Homo sapiens: one gene and its partners. The protein of the gene in region 2 interacts with the protein of the main gene of each other region in a biochemical or structural test. Each region holds a gene or a part of one and is shown on either strand. Other genes may lie near its edges. The genes, in order: SLC15A2, SHANK1 and PLCB2.

The links.
Region 1: the proteins of SHANK1 (region 2) and SLC15A2 interact in a test that uses a peptide from one of them, tested with the Homo sapiens proteins (one large-scale study listed by IntAct).
Region 3: the proteins of SHANK1 (region 2) and PLCB2 interact in a test that uses a peptide from one of them, tested with the Homo sapiens proteins (one large-scale study listed by IntAct).

Annotation. Positions count from the first base shown.
Region 1 is NC_000003.12:121,939,325-121,942,120, forward strand, and holds part of SLC15A2 (solute carrier family 15 member 2), read left to right. Parts: intron 1-24; coding exon 25-171; intron 172-1,059; coding exon 1,060-1,164; intron 1,165-1,506; coding exon 1,507-1,683; 3' UTR 1,684-2,796. UniProt on the Homo sapiens protein: Proton-coupled amino-acid transporter that transports oligopeptides of 2 to 4 amino acids with a preference for dipeptides. Transports neutral and anionic dipeptides with a proton to peptide stoichiometry of 2:1 or 3:1.
Region 2 is NC_000019.10:50,702,651-50,706,302, forward strand, and holds part of SHANK1 (SH3 and multiple ankyrin repeat domains protein 1), read right to left. Parts: intron 1,865-3,652; coding exon 1,787-1,864; intron 1,537-1,786; coding exon 1,470-1,536; intron 1,181-1,469; coding exon 850-1,180; intron 11-849; coding exon 1-10. UniProt on the Homo sapiens protein: Seems to be an adapter protein in the postsynaptic density (PSD) of excitatory synapses that interconnects receptors of the postsynaptic membrane including NMDA-type and metabotropic glutamate receptors via complexes with GKAP/PSD-95 and Homer, respectively, and the actin-based cytoskeleton.
Region 3 is NC_000015.10:40,297,847-40,301,498, forward strand, and holds part of PLCB2 (1-phosphatidylinositol 4,5-bisphosphate phosphodiesterase beta-2), read right to left. Parts: exon of another isoform or gene 2,821-3,652; intron 1,629-2,820; coding exon of another isoform or gene 1,563-1,628; exon of another isoform or gene 1,400-1,562; intron 1,383-1,399; coding exon 1,282-1,382; intron 1,119-1,281; coding exon 952-1,118; intron 863-951; coding exon 716-862; intron 535-715; coding exon 377-534; intron 114-376; coding exon 31-113; intron 1-30. UniProt on the Homo sapiens protein: The production of the second messenger molecules diacylglycerol (DAG) and inositol 1,4,5-trisphosphate (IP3) is mediated by activated phosphatidylinositol-specific phospholipase C enzymes.

The DNA of each region.
Region 1 (2,796 bases), on a different chromosome or scaffold from region 2:
ATTTCCATTTTCTCTTTCCCTAAGAACACCAATCAGGGTCTTCAGGCCTGGAAGATTGAAGACATTCCAGCCAACAAAATGTCCATTGCGTGGCAGCTACCACAATATGCCCTGGTTACAGCTGGGGAGGTCATGTTCTCTGTCACAGGTCTTGAGTTTTCTTATTCTCAGGTAAGTTTTTGCAAATAGAAGGTAGAAATTGAGGCATTGCTTGAAGGACAATGAATTTTAATTCTAGCACTGACTTAAATAGGTATGTTATCTCTTTTGGCCTTGGGTACCTTATTTATGACCCTGAACATATATGACCTGAACATCTTAACTCCCCAGGTCATGACAGTACAGCATGGGAGTCTATGATTTTGGGGTTCTAGGAAAGAGATTAAAGATTAAAATGAAGAGCTGCAGAGTCAGACTTCCCGTGTTCAAATTTTGGCTGCATGACCTATTGTGTAACCTTGAGCAAGTAAATTACTATCTCTGTAATGCTGTCGCCCAGGCTGGAGTGCAGTGGCGCGATCTCAGCTCACTGCATTCCAGCCTGAGCGACAGAGCGAGACTCCATCTGCCTCCCCGGCTCAAGCGATTCTCCTGCCTCAGCCTCTTGAGTAGCTGGGATTATAGGCGCACACCACCATTCCTGGCTAATTTTTGTATTTTTAGTAGAGACAGGGTTTCACCATGTTGGCCAGGCTGATCTCTAACTCCTGACCTTGGATGATCTGCCCACCTTGGCCTCCCAAAGTGCTAGGATTACAGGCTTGAGCTACTGCGCCCAGTCTGTAATACTATTTTTTAAATGTATAAGAATACGAATAGAACTTATCTCTTAGGATTGTAATGAAGATTATATGACATAATGAGTTTAAATATATTCAGTTAGGAGCTTCATCTTATTCTTACTGTTTACATTATTAACACCCTCTGAATCAATGTGATAGCTGAACTTAATAAGAGAAGTTCTAACTTGGAAGCTTTTGTGGGAGAAGTTTCCTGGATGCATGGGGCATGAGGGCAGTGAAGGGGGTTTGTTTACTTTCAAACTTGTGTCATCCCCAGGCTCCCTCTAGCATGAAATCTGTGCTCCAGGCAGCTTGGCTATTGACAATTGCAGTTGGGAATATCATCGTGCTTGTTGTGGCACAGTTCAGTGGCCTGGTACAGGTATGGATCTGAGGGAAGCAGGATTCATTTCTACTCAAGTTTTTCCTCCAGCTTTCTCTTCTCCCTTTCCCCCATCTCTCTGCTTCCCACATTCCCCATTCAGTGCTGTGACATGAAATGGGTTAGATATACAGACTTTACCAGGAAAATAGACATATGTAAGTGGCAATAATGACTACAATATACCTATGTGAGGAGAGGCCAGTGAACCCAGTCTTTGTCCAGCAAAAGTCTGGTTAAACTGGTGATCCCAGGTCAGTCTGCTCCCCACTCCTCATCCTGTAAAGATCTCTTTAGTTTCAGGTTTCTCCATATTCTTCTCATATTTATTTCCCCCTGCAGTGGGCCGAATTCATTTTGTTTTCCTGCCTCCTGCTGGTGATCTGCCTGATCTTCTCCATCATGGGCTACTACTATGTTCCTGTAAAGACAGAGGATATGCGGGGTCCAGCAGATAAGCACATTCCTCACATCCAGGGGAACATGATCAAACTAGAGACCAAGAAGACAAAACTCTGATGACTCCCTAGATTCTGTCCTGACCCCAATTCCTGGCCCTGTCTTGAAGCATTTTTTTTCTTCTACTGGATTAGACAAGAGAGATAGCAGCATATCAGAGCTGATCTCCTCCACCTTTCTCCAATGACAGAAGTTCCAGGACTGGTTTTCCAGTACATCTTTAAACAAGGCCCCAGAGACTCTATGTCTGCCCGTCCATCAGTGAACTCATTAAAACTTGTGCAGTGTTGCTGGAGCTGGCCTGGTGTCTCCAAATGACCATGAAAATACACACGTATAATGGAGATCATTCTCTGTGGGTATGCAAAGTTATGGGAATTCCTTTATAGGTAACTGCCATTTAGGACTGATGGCCCTAATTTTTGAGGTGCTGATTTAGAGGCAAAATTGCAGAATAACAAAGAAATGGTATTTCAAGTTTTTTTTTTTATAAGCAATGTAATTATGCTATTCACAGGGGCCTCAAGAATTGGTATGTATGATGTGATCTGGTCCAGCCAGGGCCTGGCTTGTCAGCTCTCTAGGTTTGATATGACTTTAGTAAATTTGTCAATATAGATGGTAGGAAGCAGAATGCCATTTTATTAAAACACAGGAGAAGTTATATCTCTCTGATTATGATAGTATTTTATTTACTTATCCAAACCCTCCTTTCTCAGTATGGATAGATCATGGAAACCAGATTAGAGATAGTAAGCATTAGTAAACATTGTTCTGGAGAACAGGAACAGGTGTAAGTTGTAGAAATCCTGAAGAGCCAGTCATTCTTTTACAGAGTACATTCTTCTTAGCCTCTATGGCGCTGGTCTATGCCCTTCAGTGAACAGTTGTATAAACAATAATTATAATTTGCAACCTTGTCTTGTCAACCTTGCTGATCCAGCTTTTTCTTATTATTACACCTTGTCTTGCTTATTGCAGCAAATATTCAATAACAACAATGTTTCTATAAGTCCAACTTCCTTTATTAATGTTTCCATTTAGCCTCAAAAATATCAAAGTAGTTCCTTTTTGATGTTGTTTTCCTGATTTACTTTTCCCATAAGTTTTAAATACCATTTCTGCCTTGAAGCCTAGAAATTTTCTTTTTATTCAAAAAAAGTTACATTAATG
Region 2 (3,652 bases):
CCCGCTGGAGCTGCGTACACAGAGGGCATGAGAGGAGGGGAGGGTGGAGGGAGGGGACACCTCTGGGAGGACAGGGGTCCTTGGGTGGGGGAAGAGGACGGTGCATCAGGGGGGAGGGGGGGTTTCCCAGCACTGGCGTCCTCCAAGGAAGAGGGCATTTGGGGGCTCCCTCTGCCTGCCCGCAGCTGCCCCAACCAGCCCCCTCTCCTGCCTCCTGGCTTCCGGCTCTGCCCCCTCCCACGGTCCTGCGCGCACCGCCTGATTCAGCTTCCTGAGGCTGAGCTGGGACTGTGTCATCCCTCCGCTCACGAGCCTTCCGCGACTCCCAGCTTCCTCCTGGGTCAGGTCCAACTCCTCTGCCCGCCGTTGCCAGCCTCTCCCCCACTTCCTCGGGACACGCCTGGCTGGCCTTCGCCTCCTTCTCACCCTCCTCTAGCCAGGTGGGCTTCCTGACCCCGGAATGTCCCCCGCCCCTTCCTCATCCTCCCTCCAGAGTGACCTCTCTGTCCCCCTCAAGTCCCTGCCACCCCCCCCATCCTCTTCCTGTTCAGCTTCCCTCCACCTCACCCTGTCATTCTGTCTGTCCCCAGGGGCTGGGGCCCATGTTTCTTTGGGGTACCCTCTGCCTGGGGCCCCTGTCCTGGAGCAGACATCCAGCTAACATGTGGTGCACCGGGGGTGGAGTCGGGACAGTAGCTCCCAAGGCCTTGCTTTACCCCAAGGTGACACTAGGGACTTGGATGAGGGCCTACAGAGGAAGGCAGCTGGGCTGGCCTCGGGGGAAGCCGCCGATCTGGAGAGGGGATTTGACGGGGCTGGGGACTGTGGAGCCAGGGCTGCCTCCCCTACCTGGGCCGGCCTCGGGGCTGCCTCTTGGCGTCCTCAGGGTGCCTCCCTCGGGATGGAGAGCGGGCCCTGGCACCCCGGGGGCTGCTGGCACTTCGGAGGGTCCCGCTGCTGAGCTTGGTGGTGGGGGCCGAGGGCTGCGACTGGCCCTGGGACCCTGAGGTAGGGCCAGGGGCCCCAGAGGACGCGGCCCCCGGGGCGGAGAACACCATCCAGTCGGGCAGCGCCATGCTGGTGTCACTGTTGGCCCGCAGCAGCGCCGGGGGCACCGTCAGCCCTGTGCCTGGGGGCCCCCGTCGCCGGGCCGCGTACTTGGGGGACTCCTGGAAGGGCACTGAGAGGGCACAGTGGCGGCGGGGGGCAGATGTTAGGGGAGAAAAGGCAAGCAGGGGGCCATGCGGGGGCAAGAGATGGTGGGAGAGAGGCATGAGGGAGAAAGACAGAGATGAGAAAGGGAGGGGGGCCTGGAATTGCTCCCCCACCACCATCCAGACATTTTTGGTCCTCTAGGGTTTTCTCCATCCTATCCTGGCCCCCAAGTCAGGTCCCCCAACTCCCCCATCCCACCATGAAACCTCAACCGCCCCAGGTTCTCTGTGCAGTCCGAGCTCCCTGTCACTCACCCACATCCTGTTCTCGGTGGTTTCGGATCAGCTCCCCCAGCTCAAAATTCCCAGCAATCACTGCCACCTGGAGGGAGGGGGTAGAGGCAGGTCGGCCAGGGGGGCCCAGGCAGCAGAGAGAGGGCAGGGAACGTGGCGAGGTCCCTGGCCCGACCCAAACCTTCCACTCCGACAATGCCGCCCTCTGTCTTCTTCCAGCTCCCCCTCCACGGCCTGTCTCCTTGCTTTCCTCATTGTCCCCTTCCTTATCCACTGGGTGTCACTGTCACCCTTTCCTTAGCCCTGGAAACTCCAGCACATCCCCTGCAGCCCCAGACCTGGAAGGGGGTCTGTCCGTTGTTGTTCTTCACATCCTTGTCGGCACCTCGATACAGGAGGATCCTGGCACAGGTCTCCTGCGGGTAATGGCCAGTGGCACAGGACAAAGAGAGAGAGAAAAAATTAAGATCACCATGAGTGGATGCAGGTTCTGTGCTAAGAGCCTCAGGAATAAATACTCCACCCTAAACCCGCACCACTGAGGACAGCAGCCACCTGCCAGGTACGGACCAGGAGCACTTTAGTTTAAACGTGGCCGGCCCAAACGGAGATGCACCATGCATGCGAACTACACACTGGATTTCAAGGATATGCCATATGAAAACAAGAAAGAATTTAAATGTCTATAGCCAGGCGTGGTGGCTCAAGCCTGTAATCCTAAGACTGTGGGAGGCCAAGGCAGGAGTTCCAGACCAGCCTGGGTGACATAGTGAGACGCCCCCCGTCTCTACAAAAAAATAAACAGAAATTAGCCAGGCAGGTGGTGGGTGCCTGGAGTCCCGAATACTTGGGAGGCTGAGGTGGGAGGATCGCTTGAGCTCAGGAGTTGGAGGCTGCAGTGAGCTGAGATCAAGCCTGAGTGACAGAGCAGGGACCTGTCTCCCCCCCAGAAAAAAAAAATGTCAGGTGTGGTGACACACACCTGTAATCCCAGCACTTTGGAAGGCTGAGGTGAGTGGATCACTTGAGGCCAGGTATTTGAGCCCAGCCTGGCCAACATGGTGAAACCCCGTCTCTATCAGAAAATACAAAAATTAGCCAGGCGTGGTGGTGGGCGTGTGTAATCCCAGCTACTCAGGAGGCTGAGGTGGGAGAATCACTTGAACCCAGGAGGTGGAGGTTGCAGTGAGCCGAGATCCTGCCACTGCACTCCAGCCTGGGTGACAGAGTGAGACTCTGTCTCAAAAAAAAATAATAATTTCTGTATTGATTCTATGTTGAAATGATAATGTTTTAGATACACTGTTATAAGTAAAATATGTTGTTAAAATAAATGTCACCTAATTATTTTCCCCTTCTCTTTAACATGGCCACTAGGATATTTGAGGGCATTTAGGGTATGTGCTCATGCTATGTTCCACTGGATGTTGGGGCCGGATAATCCTTTGGTGATTCATTGGTTTGTGGAGGGTGTTCTGAGCCCTGTGGGATGTTGAGTAGCATCCCCGGTCTCTACCACTAGATGCCAGTAGCACTCCCCTCCCCAGTCATGACAACCAAAAATGTCTCTAGACATTGCCAAGTGTCCCCTGGGAGACAGAAGCTCCCAGGTTGAGAACCACAGGTCTAGACCTTACGGAGGCTTACCATGTTACGTGCCAGGCGCTTGGCACTTTAGAGGCAGAAGCTCATTGAATTGCCCAACAATTCCAGGACATGGAAATTGTCTCTATTTTACAGAGGAGGAAACTAAGGCTTTCAAAAGAGCCCAAGGTGGGCCAGGGGTGGTGGCTCACTCCTGTAATCCCAGCACTTTGGGAAGCCGAGGAGGGAGGATCGCTTGAGCCCAGGAGTTTGAGACCAGCCTGGGCAACATGGCGAAACCCCGTCTGTACAGAAAATTTTAAAAAATTAGCCTGGCTTGGTGGCACACGCCTGTAGTCCCAACTACTTGTGGGGCTGAGGTGAGAGGATCACTTGAGCCCAAGAGGTCGAGGCTGCAAAGATCCTTGTTCATGCCACTGCACTCCAGTCTGGGTGACAAAGTGAGACCCTGTCTCAAAAAAAAGGGGGGGTTGGGGGGGCTCAAGGTCACACAGCTGGTGATTATCAGCCTTGGATTCGAACCCAGATCTCTCTGACTCCAAAGTCTTCTATCTTAATCACACTTTCTGCCAGGCCCAGAAGGAAGGGGACACACATTG
Region 3 (3,652 bases), on a different chromosome or scaffold from region 2:
GAATGTGGCTGAATGGGCCTGGATACGCACGAGTCCACATGGTTCTCAAACGACAGGATGATGGGATAGGGGGAGGTCTTAAAGGCGCTTTCTGCAATAGCCTCAATTGCTTCCTGGAGGAGAAGGAGACTCCATGAACAGAAGGTCAGCGTTCCGACTGCCTGTCTCGTGATAGCACTTTTCCCCCCTGCCTAGTTTCAATACACACATATAACTGCATGGCCGCCATTGGCCCCCAATCCCTGCTGGTCCCCAATGGTCTGAGGCCTTCCAGCCATTCATCTTCTCTAGCTTCAGCCCTCCAACCCCTCAAAGCTTCTGGCCCAGAGCCCTTCCCTACTGCCACGGCCACCAGCCTCTGTGCCCAGGGTCTCACTTTGAAGAAGATGTCTGTGGTCATGGTGAAGCCATGGGTGATAATGGGCTCCTCGTCAGGGGGTTTCCCCTTCCAGCAGTCTAGCTCCACGCAACGGCAGCCAGAGAGCAGCACCTGGCGGTACATCTCAGCCGAGGAGAGGCCTGAGAACTGGCCGGCTGAGCCAGAGGATGGGGAAGAGGTGAGGGCATCACCCAAAGGCAGCCCAGCTCTCCCCCTACCGCCACTCCATCATGGTCTGTGTTATTCTCAGGGCCAGCAGCATGTGGGCAACCCCTGTGGAGGATGCAGGGAACCCCTGTGAAAGCAGAGGTTGGCACCAATGTTATCAGGGCCCACCTGTCAGGTAGGTGTTGTGGGACGAGTTGATGAAGTAATGATTGAGTGGCTGCGTCATGTCGTGGTGGAGCAGCAGCTTGTCCTGGGCCAGCACGCTGTTCTCTGGCCCACAGAGAAACCAGACCATGCCTTCAGGTGACAGCTGGCCTGGGGGACAGGAGATAGCTGTCAGGCTACAACCCCGCTGCCAAGGCAGGACAGGACCACAGGGGACAAGGGGTTCCCTTAGTCCTCACCCCTCTGTGCATTGATGCCACTGGGCTCATACTTGTCGATGAGGCCCTGCACCTGGTCAGGCCGTGCTGGCGGGAACAGCAGGGAGTTAAGCCGGGAGTCCCGCTGTTTCTGGTTGATGAATTTGGTCAGGTGCTCCTTCGTCATGTAGGGTTTGGCCTTAGCATGGCTTCAAGCCAGAGAGAAGAGCACAGGTCCATATCCCTTGGGCCTGGAGGCTTAGACAACCCCCTTGTCCAGTGAAGCCTCCTGACTCCCGGCATGGCAGGTGGGAGGAGGGGATTGTTAGCCACCACCCTTTTCCCATGACCAGCACAACCCAAGAAACTCACTAAGAAGTGAAGATCTCATCTATTTCTGGCCGAGGACAGAGGCTCATGAGGAAACTCTTGTAGACAGGTTCTGGGAAGTCCTCAGGATTGATGGCGTCATTCTAGGGGCATAGTAACCTTATTGCCCCTGCCCTCACCTTCTCAGAGCTAAGAACCACAAACTCGGCCCAGCCCTGGTCAAGGGGACCTGGTCAGAAGGCGGGCTCAAGGCAGACAGAAGAACTTCAAGGACACCCAAGCATCCACTTCTCAAGGCCCTGGTTGCTGAGCAGAGAGCATGCTTAGCTGGTTTGCTCTGACCCTGATTTTGTACAGTGGCTATTCCATTGGCTGGGGCAGGATCGGAACTAAGAATAACCAGAATGAGGTAGAAAAGAGGTCAGAAGAAATGATGCTGCTTGCCAGGCTAGTAGGCTATCTTTTTTAAGTGGAGGACAAATATTCAAAAAGAAGCAATTTGAATATAAACATATATGCACCTAACAACAGAACCCCATAATATATAAAACAAAAACTGATAGAATTGAAAGGAGGACAATTCAACAATAATATTTGGAGACACCAAAAGCACCGGGACAAAGAAAGATAAATTAAACGTCATCAAAATTAAAAACTTTTGTGCTTCAAAGGACACCATCAAGAAAGTGAAAAGGTAACCCACAGAATGGGATAAAATATTTGCAAATCAGATATCCGATAAGAGATAAGTCAACAAAAAGACAACCCAGTTGAAAGATGGACAATGGATTTGGACAGGTATTTCTCCAAAGAAGATATATAAGTGACTAATAAACACAGAAAAGGTGCTCAATATAATTTGTAGTTAGAGACATGCAAATCAAAACCACAATGAGATACCACTCCCACTAGGATGGCTAAAACAAAAAACAGACAATCACAAGTGTCAGCGGGATGTGACTAACCTAAAACCCCACACAGCACTTTGGGAGGCCGAGGAGGGTGGATCACCTGAGGTCAGGAGTTCGAGACCAGCCTGGCCAACATGGTGAAACCCCATCTCTACTAAAAATACAAAAATTAGCCCAGCATGGTGGCACATGCTTGTAATCCCAGCTACTTGGGAGGCTGAGGCAGGAGAATTGCTTGAACCTGGGAGGCAGAGGTTGCAGTGAACTGAGATCACGCCACTGCACTCCAGCCCGGGCAACAGAGTGAGACTCTGTCTCAAAAATAAATAAATAAATCCCTACACAATGCTCTCACTTTAGAAAACAGTTTGGCGGTTTCTCAAATTGTTAAATATAGAGTGACCACATGACCCAACAATTCCACCCCTGGGTATATACCCAAGAGAATTTACACATGTTCACACAAAATCATGTACATGAATATTCATAACCAAAAAGTACAAAAAACCCAAACATCTACCAACTGATAAACAGATGAACAAAATGTGGTATATCCATACAATGGAATATTATTAGGTGGTAAAAAGGAATGAAGTACTCATGCATGCTACAACATGGATAAACCTTGAAAACATTATGAGAAATGAATACAGCCTGACATCGAAAAGCATATATTTATGATTTCATTTACTTTACCACCAGAATAGGCAAATCTATAGAAATAGAAATGAAAAGTACATTTGTGGTATTCAGGGATTCTGCACCTTTGCATTCCTTCCCCCCCCAAAAAAAACATTAAATGTCTTTCAGAATCACACTGGAAGGCCAACATCAGTCTTAGTTTGGAGCAGAGGGTCTGAGCAGGAGAGTCTAACTGGATCTCCCCAAACCCCTCCCTGTCTCTGGAGCTTCAGCTCCAAGCAAAGTTGGGTCAGTAGCCTCTACTGAGACACAAGGAAAGCAGATAGATAAGGAGGACTTAGCCAAGGGAGGAGCTCAGGCAGCAGGAGAGAGGGAGGGTGGATGTGTGCTGACCACAGGTAAGTGTTGCTGGCTGTAGGGGAGCCGCAGGAGCCCATTCCTACCTCTCCCCAACGCCACATTTGGATCCCTGTGACTGACTGCATCAAGGAGTCACCAACTCTGCAGAGCTGTGGCTGTGGGGTAAATGCTCCTCCTGGGATTCATGTGGGCAGGTGATCAATGGGGGTCGTGGTTTTATTTATTTATAACGTTCCAAATTCTTACCAGGAGAAAATACTCCATGGGGTATAGGCTGGGACCCACACAAGAGCACTGGCCAAGCAGGGACAGGGGCTGAGATTCGCTCCATTGGCCAGGCTTGAAGCCTAGCTCAGGGCCATATCAGCCCAGAGGGCTCCTTTTTGTAATTCACACAAGTTGCTTCATGGGGTGACCCTGCTTACAACTTGTAATTAAAAATTAATTATTTAACTAAAAAGACAGGGAAAAATGCTTTTCTGTACAGAGCAGAAGTCTGC